Homo sapiens: one gene and its partner. The protein of the gene in region 1 interacts with the protein of each later gene in a biochemical or structural test. Each region holds a gene or a part of one and is shown in the gene's direction. Other genes may lie near its edges.

Evidence for each region. The genes of interacting proteins can lie anywhere in the genome.
Region 2: the proteins of CCNB2 (region 1) and TGFBR2 form a complex in vitro, tested with the Homo sapiens proteins (one study listed by BioGRID).

The regions. Positions count from the first base shown.
Region 1 is NC_000015.10:59,108,011-59,111,665, forward strand, and holds part of CCNB2 (G2/mitotic-specific cyclin-B2), read left to right. Parts: intron 1-3,655. UniProt on the Homo sapiens protein: Essential for the control of the cell cycle at the G2/M (mitosis) transition.
Region 2 is NC_000003.12:30,647,984-30,651,638, forward strand, and holds part of TGFBR2 (TGF-beta receptor type-2 isoform B precursor), read left to right. Parts: intron 1-2,286; coding exon 2,287-2,477; intron 2,478-3,655. UniProt on the Homo sapiens protein: Transmembrane serine/threonine kinase forming with the TGF-beta type I serine/threonine kinase receptor, TGFBR1, the non-promiscuous receptor for the TGF-beta cytokines TGFB1, TGFB2 and TGFB3.

The DNA.
Region 1 (3,655 bases):
ATAAATATTACGACCCTGAATAATAAAGTTGATTACCTTAATACCCAAATAAAGGACAGAATGGTTCAGAAAATTCATGGAATGAGTGAGATTTTTAGGGGTAGAGAGAAGATGATAGCTGACAGGAAAGGGCACGTTTGTGGAGAACAAAGTAGCAACAAAGATCAAGGTACCAAAGCGGATATGGACCTATAATCATGTCCTTTCGTTAAGGAGTCTGAAAGACTTAACTGAGTCAGGCGGCTTGAGTGAGGAACCAGAAGATAAGGCTGGGAAGAAGGTTGCAGTTGGATTTGAAGGACTTGGAATTTGGATTTTTATCCCATTAGGCTTGAGGAAACAAAGTTTTGAGGAGTACCGAAATGATGAAAACAATGTAGGGAGGTAAGTTAGGAGGTATTGCACTTATCCAAGCAAGAGCTGATGAGGGTCTGGAGCTAGCCCAGATCTTCCCTAAGCGCCTACCCATACACCAGTATCAATAGTGGGTATGAAGAAACAACATCAAATGTGTTAGGATGTCTCAGAATGTCTTTCATCTTGTATTTAGGAAAGAATACTTTGGACACATGGCTTGCACTGCAGGAGTGGTATCCTTACCCACTTGGATATTAAATAAACCATTTATGCAATAAATGAACAAAAAGTAGGAAAGTCAGGAGAGGGCGGTAGCTTTGGTAAAGGTATCCTGTTTGGCTTCCGATTTGTTGAGGTAACCGAGGGACATCTGCCTGGAAATGCAGTTGGAAATGTGGCAGCAACATCTGAAGGCAAGGAACAGATTTGTCAGCTTTCTTCACAGAGATGATGGTTGAAAGCTCTTTGCTCTTTATGAGAACTAAAGCTTAGAAAAAGTAGTTGAGATGGGACTTCATTTAAAAAGCCTTCCCTAGAAGGTTTCTATAACAGTGACCTCCTGAAAGCCAAACCCAAAGGCTGGTTTTCAGACCTTGATCTCTTAGCAGTTGTGCAGTGTTTTACATGTGTAATGGTTTGAATGTGGTTCCTCCCACATCGCAGGAGGGCGATTTGGCAGTATATGTATATATTTTTGGGGGGGGACGGAGTCTTGCTCTGTCGCCCAGGCTGCAGTTCAGTGGCTCGATCTCTGCTAACTGCAACCTCCGCCTCCCGGGTTCAAGCGATTCTCCTGTCTCAGCCTCCCGAGTAGCTGGGATTACAGGTGCATGCTACCATGCCCAGCTGATTTTCACTATGTTGGCCTGGCTGGTCTCCAACTCTTGACCTCAGGTGATCCACCTGCCCCCGCCCCTCAAAGTGCTGGGATTACAGGTGTGAGCCACTGCGCCTGGCGGTAGTATATTTCAAATGGTTATTCTCCATACCCAGTAGCTTTGTTTTTTATCCAAAGAAAATGATCAGAGGGATAATCAAGTACTTTTAGATAGTGCTATGATGAGTGTCTCTTATAGAGTAGAGAAATACCCTAGTTAAATCCATTTAAGGAAATACTATGCAGCCATAAATATCATGTTTTAGTAGAATATTTAAAGGCATCAAAATGCTTGTAACATTAAGTGGAAAAATCAGATTATAACAATATATAAACAGTGCAACCCCAGATTTGCTTTTAAAATGTACATTTGTATGCAGAATATTGATGGTAGTTATTTTTGAATATTATGTTGGACTTAAGATTGACTTTCATTTTCTTCCTTAAAACGTCAAACTTTGGCCGGGTGCAGTGGCTCACGCCTGTAATCCCAGCACTTTGGGAGGCCGAGGCGGGCGGATCGCGAGGTCAGGAGATCGAGACCATCCTGGCTAACACAGTAAAACCCCGTCTCTACTAAAAATACAAAAAATTAGCCGGGCGAGGTGGTGGGCGCCTGTAGTCCCAGCTACTTGGGAGGCTGAGGCAGGAGAATGGCGTGAACCCTGGGGGCCGGAGCCTGCAGTGAGCCGAGATTGTGCCACTGCACTCCAGCCTGGGCGACAGCGAGACTCTGTCTCAAAAAACAACAACAACAAAACAAGAACAAAAACAAAAAACTTCAAACTTTTACCATGGGTACATATTACTGTTCAAGTTAGAGAAGAAGAAAAGAAGGCTTTTTTTTTTCTTTTTTTAAAAGCAAAGACCATAAATATGTTACTAAAGAAACAAAGGGAAAAATAGTTTCCTCCTGTGACCTCCATAACTTCATCCTTTTTGTGTTTCCTTTACTCCTTGGCTGACTCCTTTTTCTCTTGCTTCCTGGCAAAATTGAGGCCACTGTTTGAGATAAAGCATTATGGACCCGTAGCTCAGTTCATATAAAAATCAATTCCAGGGTTGAAACATATAGCTACATGTTCTAGATTTAGAAGTTATGAGGAATTAATGAACAGGAATTATTTCCAATTCAAATACATTTCCCTCTGAGAAAGTAGTGAAGGAATCTCTAAGTCCACGATTTAGGTAGAGTCCCACCTTCTAGCAGGTGAGTCTCTCTGCCTGCCTGTCTCTGGTCAGCCTTCTGGCTTTTACTTTGTCATCTGCTTTATCTGCAGGGTTATCACTGTTCTTTAGAGCCAATCCCTGGAGGTGTGGAAATGCCACTTGAGTGCACAGGTTTCTATCAATTTTCCTGGAAAGGTGATAACATAAGCCATGTGTCCATGATAGGAGATGTTCCCAGTCTTCTAACCAAATTTATACTATCCTTTTTGCAAAACTGGAGGGCAGGTTTCTTTCTCTGTAGCAGTTGACACAACTGAATCACAAAGTGCCCTGGCTGAGACCTCGGAAGAGTTCCAGCCCTTTACAGGTAGTCATAGAAGCTTATTATCCTGCAGGTTTTGGAGAAAATGGTGTTTTTTGCTGATTAATGAGGCTTTGGTAAACACAGTAGTTAGAAAGGACATGGAAGGCTTTCTACTAGTCCCATGTTTGCTGGACACTGGGGAAACAAGTTGAATAAACCATCGATTCTGTCTAGAGGAGCTCCCAGTCAAGTTGGAGGACATAGGAGTAGAAGTATGGCTTTATCTGTCACAAAGAGAGATGCATGCTTATGAGAGGTACTGAGGAGTCATAGCTAGAACAGATTACCTGACCAGATGAGTAGGATCTTAGAAAGGGTCTTACAATAATTAAATTATGTTGGAGTTCAAAATGAATGCTTTCAAGGAATTCTAAATTAAGGGCCAGGGCAAGAATCTTTGTCTTATCCTAGTGGCTTTTGTTGTTGACTGCTTGATTGATGGAGAAGATCTCACTATGTTGCCCAGGTTGGACTCAAACTCCTGGGCACAAGCAATCCTCCCACCTTGGGCTTCCAAAGTGCCCGGATCACAGATGTGAGCCACCACGCCAAGCCCTTGGTGGCTTTTGGATATGGCTAAACTCAGTTGCACTTCTGAATAGGAGCCAGAAAAATATTCTAAAGTGGTATGATAGCACATGATAACCTCTATCTCCTTAAACCAGACTTTTTGTTATTGACTGCCCTTCCAGGGGTGGGTGATAATGCTTATCCTTGAAAAAGTTAACCTTCAGCTGAAGCTGCATATGCTTATTACAATGCAAATCTGATTCTAGTCACTTGATAAACTCCTTCAGTTTTTCACCTTAACGTTTGGATAAAATCTAAGCTTCTAGAAGCTCGGCTGTTGTTCAGCTTTTCAGCTCATCTTCTCATACCTCACAGGC
Region 2 (3,655 bases), on another chromosome or scaffold:
TTAATTTTATCATGTTGGTTCTTCTTTCAGTGGAAATTGACAACCTCTTCAGTGGCTCAGAGCAAATGTTGCAGGACAAAAAAAGAAGTCCGTATTTACTTCTTTGTATTTACCTTTCCTATGCTCAGCTATATCCAAAAAGAGTTTGAAAAGTTAGCTGTGCCTGGCTGTTACAGGAGTGAGTGGAGAAAGCAGTTAAGGGCTTTACCAGGTCTCAAGTATTACAGTTGTTTTCTCTCTGTGATGTTAGTTCTCTCAGTAGCTAAGAGGTAGAAAACCGGAGGCTCTGGAAGAGCTGCCCAATAATTATAGAGCAGCTTTCTTTCATGGCTCACAGTTCCTTCTTAGGCCTCTATAAGCGTCACAAGGAAAAGAGACCATGCCTTTCTGTGGGCACAGCATACCTTCGTTTTATTACCCAAACCAAAAACAACCTACACACACACACACACACACACACACACACACACACACACACAAAACTGTGGGGGCAGGGAGGAAGGTGTTCTTGTTCCATGACTACAGCTGATTTGAAGACTGCCAAGTAGCTTTGGGGTTAAAGATGGGTAGATTTCCAAATTATACATCATTTGTTGTATGATCATGCCAACTTTCATTTAGTTTCATTTGGTGTCCTGATAGCCACCCTCAACCAATTATTCTGCTTGTCACTCTTCCTGTCACAGCAGGGACCAACTTAGCAAAGCCTTGCTCCTCTTGTGTCTTTCGGAATTCTAGTTTAAGAACCCTTGAGCCCCTTCACAAGCAGACACATGTACCTCCACTGGAGTCAACTCTGGGCTGCATGGATGTTGACACTGGCACCATTCCTGCCTGGATTGTCCTAACCCATACCCTTGCCCTTATCCCTTTGTCAACATATTGTCCTTTAATGTCCTTGACTTAAGCACTAAAAAAGTGGTATTGGTCAAAGTTGCTCTTTCTCTCATGGGGATGGCCCCGCATCTTTTATAGGTGCAAGCTGTGTCTTAGCTGCTTCTTGCTTCTAGCCTGCCTTCCGTTTTCCTTGCTGTGAGCAGTGAGCCTTTGTGCATGGGGCAGGGAGGATTAGGGGAAAATTGGTGAGTGAGTACATGCATGCATTGGCTCATGTGTGCACTCAGAATCTTCATAGAAGATTACTCTAGCAAAACTGACTGGACCAGATTAGCCCTTCCTTCCGCTCCCTCTCTAGACAGAGAGAATGCGATTCAAGACAACAGGTATTTTGCATCTAAAAAGGACAGAGGTGAAAGGGTGGATGTCAGACTAGCCTTGTTGGACAGTCATCCAAGATAGTATGTTCATGAGGGAGCAGAGGGAGGTAGATAGAGAGGTGATACCCTTTTCCAAGAGAGCCAAAATGTTCTTTTGTTCAATTATAATAGTGGGCATTAATCATGTTGTTTAAAAATCTAATGTACACTGACGGCCAATTGAGCATTTCCTAGGGCCCAAGGAAAATGCTATGTGAGAAATTCTCTGAGCCCTGGGCTAAATTAGTCTTCAAATATGTGCTATGAAGTGATACTGTCAAAGTAGTTAGTTTATGACAGCATAAAATATTTCATTGAACTGTAAATGAAGAACACCCTGACATCCCTTTCCATTTCTTTTATTTATTTGTTTTTTTTGTTTGTTTGTTTTTTCTGAATTGCTCCTTTCTGTAATTTGGGAAAGACTGCAGTTCTTTATCTGCGATGTTTCTTCCCGTTTTTCTCAGCAGAACCAGCTGTTGACAAGGAGTATACCCTTTACACGCAATGCTCTGGGGCCCAGCAAACAAAAAAAAGAGGAACTGTGACTATTTCCCCAGGCATGCTCTTTGAAAACAGTATAGCTAGACAGGACAGATTTTGCCACTTAAACTAGGGGTGTGATGTGAGGTTTGCATTACATTCAGGATGGAAGATTTAAAATTATCCTGAGTACCTAGGAATGTTCTTTTTTTCCATGTCTTCCCCTTTAATGATTTAATTAAGACTTAAATATGTAAAGTTCTCCACCAGGACTGCCCCGTGGAACGCTGTCTGCTCCAGGTGATGTTTATAATCACAAATGGGTTCCAAGAATAAACAAAGGAAAAACAGAAAAGAGTAGAAAAGCATAGGAGACTATAGGACAGCCTGCGAATGCTGGAGAACAGGAACCAGCTGCCGTTGTTAGGAACAACTTCATGAAGGAAAAGTATTCCAGATTGCCTTTCTGTCTGGAGGCCATATTATTCATTTATTCTCTTTCTCTCTCTCCCTCTCCCCTCGCTTCCAATGAATCTCTTCACTCTAGGAGAAAGAATGACGAGAACATAACACTAGAGACAGTTTGCCATGACCCCAAGCTCCCCTACCATGACTTTATTCTGGAAGATGCTGCTTCTCCAAAGTGCATTATGAAGGAAAAAAAAAAGCCTGGTGAGACTTTCTTCATGTGTTCCTGTAGCTCTGATGAGTGCAATGACAACATCATCTTCTCAGAAGGTGAGTTTTCTTCTCTTAAGGGTGTGGGACCTGAGATCTGTGCCAATTTTTTGTATCCTTGGTCTGCAGTGTCATAGAGCACATTCCTCCTGTGGTGGATTGCATACAGTGGATTAGGAGCTCATTCAGCTGGTGGAAAGAGGGGCTTGGGGAGTAGCAGGGTTTGTTCTGGTTCTCATCAAATATGGTTGACTGGGGCAAACATTATTATTTGTCTTTGACAAATAGTTTCTTTCACCTAGAGCAGTGTTTCTCAAAGTGCGGCCTCTTGAGCAGCCAGCATCAGTATCACCTGGGAACCTGTTATAAATGCAGATTCTCAGGCCCCACTAAATGAGAAACATAGAGGGTGAACCCCAGCTATCTGTATTTTAACAAGCCCTCCCAGTAATTCTGTGCAGCTAAAATTTGGTAACTATTGTTCTAAAGATTTGGATGGGGTTGTTTAATCTTGGAGGAGGACTTTCTTTATAACTGATGTTGTTTCTTGTACATAGTCCCAGGATTTGTCTTTAGGGTACTTGTCATCGATCCCATTTGAGAGAAACATTGCAATACAGAGAGGAAATAATAAGCCAAAGTTTACCCCTAGAGCCAGGAGAAGAGTAGATTAGATACTAGCCTCCATCTTTGAAGTTCAGCGTTTACTCAGCTTGAAAGGAAGGCATACACTATTCCCTCAATTTTTAATAAGAAGAGAATTCAGTGGTTTTTAATTACAAAAGTAGTATATGCTCGTCATCAAAAATTTCAAACAATCCAACAGTGTGTGAAAATTAAAAATGAAAGTACATTTTCGTCCTCCCCTCACTCCCAATGCAACAGATCATCTGTATTGACAATGTATTAGATGCACACACGTCTCTATCATTCATTCATATTATCTCCCACTCCATCCTCTCTCCCAATCTCTCCCTGTCTTCCTTTCTCTTTCCCTCCTTTCATCCATCTGTCCATCCTTCCATCCACTCATCCATCTTTCAGTACAACTATCTGATCATACTATAAATATTATTTTGCAACACTTTTTTATACCCAACCACTTTTACAATTCCTTCTAAACAAGATAGAACACATAGATATACTGTACATCTTTTAATTTAGTCTCGAATTTCATATTATCTCCCACGATGGATCTTATCATGTCCCTGTTGATGGATTGTCTTCAGTTTTTCCAC